Linked DNA regions of Homo sapiens: region 1 is linked to region 2. The links come from fine-mapping of genetic effects on gene expression. A gene starts in region 2. The other region holds a variant in brackets. All regions are shown on one strand. Distances are from middle to middle. Region 1 overlaps CCDC15 (coiled-coil domain containing 15). Region 2 holds the start of TMEM218 (transmembrane protein 218).

The links. PIP is the estimated chance that this variant, and not a neighbour inherited with it, causes the effect.
Region 1: its variant is fine-mapped to the expression of TMEM218 in whole blood (TOPMed, PIP 0.96).

Annotation. Positions count from the first base shown.
Region 1 is chr11:125,003,645-125,009,031 of GRCh38, reverse strand. It overlaps CCDC15 (coiled-coil domain containing 15), which reads right to left. Exons shown (of 16, transcript NM_025004.3): 12 at 5,073-5,165; 13 at 3,820-3,923. Among named protein-coding and RNA genes, the nearest start is that of CCDC15, 52 kb to the right of the region's middle. The variant T/C (reference allele first, on the strand shown) is at 2,027.
Region 2 is chr11:125,109,114-125,114,500 of GRCh38, reverse strand. TMEM218 (transmembrane protein 218) reads left to right here and starts at 2,875. Exons shown (of 5, transcript NM_001258244.2): 1 at 2,875-2,962. It also overlaps the pseudogene KRT18P59. RefSeq lists enhancers at 2,281-2,460, 1,823-2,735, 3,091-3,180 and a silencer at 2,551-2,620.

The sequences.
Region 1 (5,387 bases), 110 kb after region 2:
GGTCAGGCTGGTCTCGAACTCCTGACCTCAGGTGATCTGCCCGCCTCAGCCTCCCAAAGTGCTAGGATTACAGGCGTGAGCCACCGCGCCCAGCTCATTATAACTTTTTATGCATTGTTTAGAAGTTAGTAGGCACAATGAAGTTTGTCAAGACAACTGGGGTTGAGCTCTAAGGGGCACAGTAAAAACCCATAGCCTGTAGTCCCAGCTACTCAAGAGGCTGAGGCAGGAGAATCTCTTGAACCAGGGAGGCGGAGGTTGCAGTGAGCCGAGATCACGCCACTGCACTCCAGCCTAGCAACGGAGCGAGACTCTGTATCAAAAAAAAAGAAAAAGAAATGCAACTGATGGAGAAGAACTTCTTCAACCTGAAAAAGCGCATCTACAAAAAATGTACAGCTAACATCATACTTGATGGTAAGAAACTGTAAGTTTACCTGCTAGGATAAGAAACAAGCCAAAGATGTACCCTCTCATTAACATCATACTGAAAGTCCTTGCTAATGAAATAAGGCAACGAAAGGAAATAAAAGGCATACAGACTGGGAAAGAAGAAATAAAACTAACTTTGTTCACTGGTGACATGATCATATAATAACAAAAATGTCACTGAACAAGCTACTGGAACTAAGTGATTACAGCAGGGTTGAAGGATACAAGTTTAATATACAAAAGTCAATCACTTTCCGATATACCAGCAATGAACGGGTGGAGTTTAAAATTAAATGCACAATACCATTTATATGTATTTCCAAAATGAAAGATTTAGGTATAAGTCTAACAAAAAATATATAAGATCTATATGAGCAAAAACAACAAAACACTGAAGAAAGAAATCAAAGGACAACTAAATAAAATGGAGAGATCATCTATGGTCATGGATAGAAAGACTCAATATTGTCAAGATGTCAGTTCTCCCCAACTTGATATATACATTAACTGCAATCTCAGTAAAAATCTCAACAAGTTATTTCGTGGATATTGACAAACTTATTTAAAGTTTATGTAGAGAGGTAAAGCCAACACAACATTAAAAAAGAAAAACAAAGTTGAAAGACTGAAATTACCCGACTTCAAGACTTATTATAAAGCTACATGCCACACCCACTGTTGCCAGCACCCAGGTATAGAACCAAACGACCTGAGGACAGGCCTGCCTCACCCACTGCCGCCACTTCAGGCACTCATGCTTGTCATCCGGGTGCCTGGGGATCAACTGAACTTACCCACAATGAGATATCATCTCACCACAGTTAAAATGGCAATTATCAAAACAACAAAAAGTAACAAAAGCTGGTGAGGATGTAGAGAAAAGGGAACTCTTATACACTGTTGGTGGGAATGTAAATTAATACAGAAATTATGGAAAACGGTATGGAGATTTCTAAAAAAAAAACCTAAAAACAGAACTTCCAGATGATCCAGCAACTCCACTATTGGGTATTTATTCAAAGGAAAAGAAATCAGTGTATCAAAGGTATACCTGTATCCCCATGTTTACTGTGGCACCATTCACAATTGTCAAGATATTGAATCAACCTAAGTGTCTTCAACAGAGGGACACAAAGAAAATGTGGTATATACACACAGTGGAATACTATTCGGCCATAAAAAGAATGAAATCCTGTCATTTGCTGCAACACAGATGGAACTGGAAGTCATTATGTTAAATCAAATAAGCCAGGCACAGAAAGACAAACATCGCATGTTCTCACTCACATGTGGGAGCTAAAAAAGCTGATCCCATAGAGGTAGAAAGTAGAATGATAGTTAACCAGAGGGTGGGAAGGGAGGAGAGGATGAAGAATGGGTTAATGGGTATAAACATACAGTTAGACAGATAGAATAAATTCTACTTATTGGTAGCACAGTAGGGTGACTCTAGTTAACAATAATTTATTGTATATTTCAAAACAGCTAGAAGATTTGAAATGTTCCCAATCCAAAGAAATCATAATGTTTGAGATGACAGGTATCCAAATTACTCTGATTTGATCATTACACATCATACATTTGATCATATACA[T/C]TGCATGTTATCAAAATATTACATGTATCCCATAAATATGTACAATTATTATGTATCAATAAAAATATGTAAGTAAAGCTACAATAATCAAAACAGTGTGGTATGGCAAAAGAATAGACAAATAGATCAATGGAACAGAACAGAGAACCAAGTCCAAAAAACAGAACCACATAAATGCAGTCAACTGATTTTTAACAAAAGAGCAAAGGCAATATGATTAATAAAAGATGGTCTTTTCAACAAATGGTGCTGGAACAACTGGACATCCACATGCAAAAAAAAAATGACTCTAAACACAGATCTTACACCTCTCACAAAAATTAACAAAGTGGATCATAGAGAAAAATGTAAAATGCAAAACTACAAAACTCCTAGAAGGTAACACAGGAGAAAATCTAAGTGACTTTGGGTATGGCAGTGACTTTTTTTTATATATAACACCAAAGGCACAATCCATGAAAGAAAGAACTGATTAGGCAGACTTCATTTTGCTCTGCAAAAGATACTGTCAACAGATGAGAAGACATGCTACAGACTGGGGAAAAAATGTTTACAAAAGACTGATAAAGAACTGTTATTCAAAATATACAAAGAACTCTTAAAATTCAACAAGAAGAAGCAAAATGAACAGACACATCACCAAAGAAGATACACAGATGACAAATAAGCATGTGAAAAGGTGCTCCATATTATATGTCATTAGGGAAGTGAAAATTAAAACAATGAGATACTACTACACACCTACTAGAATGGCCAAAATCCAAAATACTGACACCACCAAATGTTGGCAAGGATGTCAAGCAACAGGAACCCTCACTCCTTGCTGGTGGGAATGCAAAATGGTATAGCCACTTTGGAAGACCATTTGGTAGTGTCTTATAAAGCTAAATATATTTTTACCACATGATCCAGCAATCATATGCCTTGTTATTTACTCAAATAAGCTAAAAATGTATGCCCCCACAAAAACTTGTACATAGATTTTAAAGTAGCTTTATTCATAATTGCTAAATATTGGCAGCAAATAATATGTTCTTCAGTAGGTGAATGAATAACTAAACTGTGATACATTCAGATAATGGGATATTATTCAGTGCTAAAAATAAATGAGCTATCAAGCCATAAAAAAGCATTAGAGGAAACGTACATGCATATTTCTAAGTATAAAAAGCCAATCTAAAAAGGTTGCATACATACTGTATGATTCCAACTATATGACGTTCTGGAAAAGGCAAAACCATGGAGACAGTAGAGAGTTCAGTGGTTACCACAGGATAGGGTGTAAAGAGGGAGGAATAGGCAGAGCACAGAGGATTTTAGGGAAGTGAAAGCACTTTGTATAATACCATAATGGTAGACACATGACATTATGTATTTGTCAAAACCCATAGAATGCCTAACACCAAAGGTGAACCCTAATGTAAACTATGGACTTTGGGTAATAATAATGTGTCAATGTAGGTTCATCAATTCTAATACATTGTACCACTATGGTGCAGGATAGTGACAGTAGGAGAGGCTACGCATTTGTGGGGCAGAGGGTATACTCTCTGTACTTTCTGCTCAATTTTGCTGTGAGCCTAAAATTGCCCTAAAAAAATCAAGTCTAATAGAAAATCGAACCAAAAAACCAAACCATAGCTGTTCACCATCTTCCAATACTTCACCCAGATCAAAAATAGCTGTTTTCAATATGGATCAGAGGGCAAAACCATTACCTTTTTCTAAAGTTCATCTTCCAAAAACATCTTAATTGGCAATTTAAGGCTCACAGAGCAGATCGAATAACTTACTTTTCAATTTTCTTCTTTTGTTCTTTTTGCCTTTGTTGTTCTTTAACTTGTTCTCTCTCAATATCCATGAAAAGTCGTCTATGTCTCAGGTACTGCTTTTGACGCTAAAGGTAAGAAGTTAAAATTACTAAGATTCTGCTTTCAGAGGAATTTCCAAGGAAGAAAAATATTCTTATACCATAGACAAAAACAAATGCAAGCAAACAGAAACAGATGATATAGAAGTTACATGATTAAGTCTTTAATTTCCTTCTGTCTATGGTCACTCAGGATGTCACATACACAAGAATTTTATATTTTCAAGCACATGGCTATTATATGTTAATAGGCAAACCAGAGAAAGTATTTACTCTGTTACTCTGAAATATTTACTCTGTGTTCCCAAGTAGTAAGTACCATAAAAGCAGAGCCACAGAAAGAATGTAGAAGATATTTCATAACAGAACCAATAGTTACTTTAACTTTTCAAAATTAAAACAGTATCACAAAAGCATACTCTAAGCCTAGCCTAACATGGCACGGAGGAGGGTAGAAGGGCTGAGGTATACTAAAGCCTCAGACTCATAAATGAAACAAGTAGAATAAAAGCAAGTGCTACTAGACTGTGTGTGATCTGTTCATTCCTCTGGATTTATATATACTCTTTTAAATACACAAGCTATTCGATGAGCAAAAAGCATGTCTATGTATATACCAAAGTAGTGCAGGGCTTTTTGGTAAAAATTACTGAAGTTCTAAATAGTAGCTCTTAATACTGAGGATGCATCAGAATCACCAGTGGTATTTTTAAAAAACAAAAATGCCCTAAACCTCCGTTTTCAGATACTGATTTGGTATATCTGGTTTAGATCTAGGCATATTTGTATTTTGAAAAAAGCTCCCCATCTGATTCTGGTGCATGGCCAGGGTTAAGAACTATCGGTTTAAACTAACTTTAGATTGAAAAGAGAAAAAAAAAAGAAAGCCATAAAGTAATTATCTTCCTTTAAATAAGTTATAGTGGCAAATATACATTAGCTGGAGAAATTTATTAGTATCAAATAATTGATTTCACATCAATGTACCCTAACTCATAGGAGCTTGGAAAATAAATTCAACACATTATAATGAGTCAAGCAACTTTTATTTGATTTATGAAATTTGTGGTATTAGCTCTTTTATGTGTTAGGACACAACAAATTGTTTCCAATTTCTCATATATTAATACTATCATAGTAGAAATATTGGGATCCAAAAGCAGTATCATTACATACCTCTTTCTTATCTTCTTCTTTATCCACGTCAGACTGAAATGCCAGTGGAGCTTGGAATTCAGTGCTCAATCCTGATTGATACCTATCATAAGCCTGTTAAGAAGGTCCAGTCACACAAAGTGACAAAATTACCAAAAACTACCCCATGAACAATTTTGATATTTTTATCTGTTCTTTTCTTTTGCAAACTTGGGCTCAATTGGATAAAGAAGGGGAAAAAACATGAATATAAAGAATAAAATCAAAAAAGAATGAAAGGAAGCCGTTTCAGAAGGAAGTAACCAAACATAAAATAATAAATCGAAGAAAAGGGTT
Region 2 (5,387 bases):
CTAGGTTGATCTCTTAGGACTGAACTATACATCTCAGCTCCATGAATGTTGTCTCAGCAGCTCCTATTTTGGTGGACTGCGTGGTGACCACTGTGGTGTGTTCCTCAGTCTTCTGGGACCAGTACTTGTCCAGCTCTTCTCAGTTCTTCTGGGCCAGCTCATCATACTGGGCCGGGAGGTCTGCCATGATGTTGCTGAGGTCCTGAGATTTGGGGGCATTTACCTCCATGGTCAACTCAGAGCTGGCAATCAGGGCTTGTAGACCTTTTACTTCCTTCTCTTGGTTCTTCTTCATGAAGAGCAGCTCCTCCTTGAGAGCCTCCATCTCTGTCTCCAGCTGTAGCCGAGTGACATTGGTGTCATCAGTGACCTTGTGGAGCCCACGGACGTTGCTCTCCACAGACAGGCACATGACCAGCTCCGTCTTATACTTGACTCTAAAGTCATCAGCAGCAAGACGGGCATTGTCAATCTGTAGAACAACACAAGCATTGTCCACAGAATTTGCAAAGATATGAGCCCTCAAGTCCTTGATGGTCATGAAGTAATGCCCCCAGGCTCTGACCTGGGGTCTCTTCTTCTCCAAGTGCTCTCAGATTTTGCTCACCAGCCTCTGACTCTTGGTCACCAGAGTCCTCACTCTGTCCAGGTAGGAAATCCAGGCAATCATTCAGGCCTTGCATGGTATCCTTCTCATTCTGGATGTACCCCATTCCTTCCAGACCCCTGGCATCCCTGCAGCCAGGCCTCCAGACCCCCAGCCACTCCAGAAGCTGGTGGAGAAGGACACTGAGGTCCGGGAGCCCAAGCCCCTGAGGACTGCATAGACTTTGGCTGTGCTGCTGATGAACTGGACGCTGTGGCTGTGTGGCTGGATGGAATGCAGGGACTGGTAGTTGGTGGAGGTGGTAAAGCAAATGGTGAAGCTCATGCTGCCTAAGGAGAAAAGCGAGAGGACAGGACTCAAGTTCTGTTGAGCCATGCCCATTTTTAATTTATAGCTTAACTGAAGCCAGTATGATCATTAGAAGTGTAAGGAAGTTAACTTTTCCAATCTCAAACTTTGAACTTTTGACCACTTTCCTCCAAAATATTAAGGTCTCAGAGCCAGTTCTGACCAGCTTGTCTACACATTACTTTCCATCATTTGTCTCCATATTATTCTCCAGATACTCAGTGCTCATTCTTGCCTTGGCCTCTTTGCTCAAACTACTTTCTCCTCCTGGATTCTGTTCCACCTTTCCTGTTCCTACTCATATGCTAGGACCCAGCATTAGTTCTAGCTCTATGATAAAGACACACACATTAATTCCAGCCATAACAAAATATCCCCCAAATAATACAAGGGAAGAAGTGCTCTGGAAACTACGAAATGTTCTGCAAATATGAAGTATTATTATATTTTGGAGAAATTAATTGTACAATAGGGTTGGCCCATTGTTATATCTTGCTTTAAAGTGTTTCCTACTTGTTTCATGTGTTGTTGACCTAACATTACAAAACCACGGGCTATTAAGATGGGAGTCACATCTCATTTCTTGTATATCTTCGCAGTTCCTAACAGAACATAGCTGCAGTCAACACTCAGTTCCAGTGAAATGAATTCATCAAAATAAAGGATTTCTTAGCCACAGAGCTTCTCACTGGGCCAAGTAATGTTAAGTTGCTAAACGCACAACAAATCATTGGTTACTTTATGTGATTGTAAATGAAGCCTCGAAAGTTGAATAAATTTGAGACGTGCAGTTGATGAAATTCAAGCATCTTCTTCTTTTTGGTTCATAAAGCTGTGATTCAGGAGAATTCCTTAAATCAGAGATTCAGTGCTCTAAGATTGAATAGGTTGCTTCATGATATTTCTTAAAATTTTGTTTAAGGTCAAAGGTTCAAACGGTGCAGCTCTCCAATTTGGTATTGATTATTGTTTGTTTCCCCTTCTTGATTCAGTGGTGGAGCACGCAGCCTCTGTCCTACTTCCTTTGGTTGTCCTGATTGATGCATCTTTTGGTCTAACAGGCCATAGCCTCAAAGCAAAGTCATGGCAAGCTTTAGTTGGCAGTTAGGTAACAGCAGTCTGCCAATAGCGTGGGCCAGCTCCAGTTCCAGCAGCCTGGCGGCAGAGGGTTTACTTGATGGACCCTGGGCCTCTTCCCCAGTCTGTCCCGTGGGTAGAATGATCTTTGCCTTTGTCTGTTTCGCAAGGCTAATGGAAGAATTAAATACCAAATAAAACAAGTCGAGATAAAGATAAATGAAGCGTGCCGTTATTACAACTGGTGCTTCGTCCTCAGTTCCCTCCAGGAGGGTTGTTGGGGACACTTAATGACCGGGCCTGAGCTGACTTGTCCACCACATCTTGCGCCCCACTCGAGCTAGTGGGTTGGGGATTGAGATGTTCATCAGGCCCCGGAAAAGGCATTGATGTCTAGATGACTGTGCAGTTCTCTGGAGTTCGAGATCTGAGCTGCCTGGCCCTGCTGCTTCGCTGCCTGGATGGGCAATCTCTATGGTGACAGCGAGTGAGGCCGGAAGAAGTCTCTCTCTTCCGCCCAACAACCCGCCCTCAGGCTAGACTGACCAATGGCCCAATGAGTTACGGAGAGATGGTGTGATTGACAGTGGAGTGGCGGGGGGGCGGGGAGTGCAGCTCGGACCGCTGCTACCCAACCGAACTGAGGTCGGTCCAAAGGCTGACAGGCACCGACCAATCGGAGGGCGTAACGAAGGGTGACGAGCCAACCCACCGCGCTCGGCGTTGCCGGGAGCCGCGCTAGGCGTAAGCTAATGAGGAAGAAGTTGGCCGTTGAAAGAGCAACGCTGATTAGTGAATCTTAAATCACCTAAATGAAAGCCCACTTGTGATTCGCCCTAAGTAAACCAGAGCCCCGTGGGCTGGAACGCGCCGGAATCTGAGGTGTGAGTAGAGCCTGGGGGAGAGTGGATCCAGGTGAAGGGGGCAGAGGTGAGGAAAGCGGGGCGGCTGCGGGGAAGGGAGAAAAGTGGAGGGTCGGGCTGAGGTGGTTGGAAGAAGGCGTGGGCGGACGGCGGTGCACGGACCTCGCAGACCACCCTTACCGCTGATCTGGACCCAAGGCCCGGCTAATAAATACTTAATTGGAGGCAGAGAAGGAAGGACTGTTTTGTTTCATGCTCTTAAGAAAAGGAAGTGTCAGTGCCTGATTCAGATCTCTTATGACCGAGACCTTAATCCCTCTCTAGCTCCTGGGAGGTGGCCAGGTGCACATTCTGAAGACGAGACATGGGGGGCATTGTTTTCCTGTCGCCAGTTTGAATCTGCAACAGGGTTGGGGAGAAGCTTAGAGTTCAAGTGGGGTGTTCCCAGGCTGCAGTGCTGTGAGATCCAGAGAGCGGATAGACCGAGGCTCTGCAGCGCTTCCAACCCACAACACCGTCCAGGAGAGGGATGCAAGGAAGAGACCTAGGTTTACTGATCCTCCTTTTTCTATCAACGTGTTAAGAGCAGATGCTACATCGGTGGCATTTTGGGAGCTTGGCAACTGATTTTTTCCCCAGGCTTGCATTTTATCTAATTACAAAGGTAGAGGCGTTATTCTAATATTTTAAAATTCAAAAGATAGTGAAGTGTTTAAAGTAGAAACATAAAAGTGTGAAAGTAACCCCCCCCCCCCGTTATTTTTGAAGGTTTGGAAAACAGCTATAAAGCAAAGTGAAAAGGACTCTTCCAGAGGAGCACTTCACTCCTTGTAACCCACTGTTTTCTGTTGCTTTCAAGGGCTTGAGTCAGTGTGAAAATCGGGGGATGGGTGAGATATCTCCCTCCAGCAGCAGCACTTAGGCCACATTACCCTCTGAGGAATCCACATTTGTCTTAGATAGTAAGTCATCTTATAAGTCATCTTATAATGGCAGTTAGTATTCTCGCTCATGATGATCAACCTGGTGATGAGTACCGTATTTTTAATCCATTAGGTTACCTGTGCAGGGATCAGTCCATTTATTCCTATTTTCTCTGACAGCTGGATGAAAGGGTATGTAGAAACAACCATTAAATGAACACACACATCTAAAAGGTTTTGAACAAACTCTCTCAGAGAAAAACCTCACAGCATTGAGCACAGAAGGAAAACATTAGCCCTGTAGTTGCTTTTGTTGTCAGCTGCTGAACTGTTCAAATTTAAATTATTTTTTTTCACTCCAGTCTACCTGCTTTAAATGCCACAGATATTAAGTAAATGGACTTACCCTTGAAATCGGGTTGGCCAAGCCATCACTTCTCAAAGAAGGTTTAATGATGGCATGAACCCGTTTTTATATTTTATTGTATTGTACTCAATAACAATAATTTAGCTATTCTAATATGGGAAATTATCACAGATATTATTCTCACATTTAAATAAGATAAAAATGACTAGATGTTCTCTCTTCCTCTATAGCAGCACTCTATACTATACCCAGCCCTTCTTTTCTATGCTTAGTAAGAAAATGTATAGTTTGCTTATAAAATTATGAGCTCCATTCTTAAAAGAGCTTGGGAATATTTATCTTATTACTTTAAAGCCATACCATATATAAATCCAATGTCTCACGAACTCTTAAGCTACTAAGGGGGATTGAAGGGCAACATTTCTAATGGCGCCAGCCAGCTTCAACTACCATTTGCCCTCTATTCTAACTGTTAGAGTTGGTCCAAGTCTTCTGGGTTATTTGTGTAATATCCAGAATAGCACAAATTAAATTTAAATAGTTGTTTTCTTAAGAGCAGTACCATCAGCTCAGTCAACTAAGCTAGAAACTTGTGTCATTTCTAACACCTTCTCCCTTGACACAGCTAAGACTGGAGGTCAGACCCTCATCATCTCTTATCTGGAGAATTGCAATAGTTTCCTAACTGGTCACCCAATTCATATGCATCCTGCTGCCCATTACCTTTTTAAAAATTAAAAATTATCACGAAAAATTTAAAAACAGAAAATAGTACATTGGGTAGTATAATATCTATGTTCCACCAATCAGATTAATAAATATTAACATTTTGGCACACCAGCTCAAGTTTTTTATTTTAAAGAAATAAAACATCACAGATTTAGTTCAGATCCCTTTTATTTCCACTCCTAACCCCATTCCCTTTCCTTCCTCCCTCTGCAGAGGCAAATAGTCTTTTGAAATTGTCATGTATTGTTTATGCCCATGTTTTTATACTTTTGCTGTATATACGTTCGTCAGAAACAATATATATTACTGTTTAGATTGTATTTAATTTTAAAAATACAAGTAGTATCATACTGTGGGTTCCATTTTGCAACTTGTTTTTGTCACTCAACATTGTTTTTGAGATATATTCACATCAATACATATAGATCAATTTCATTCATTTTAAGTATTCATTATGAATATATAATATTGTA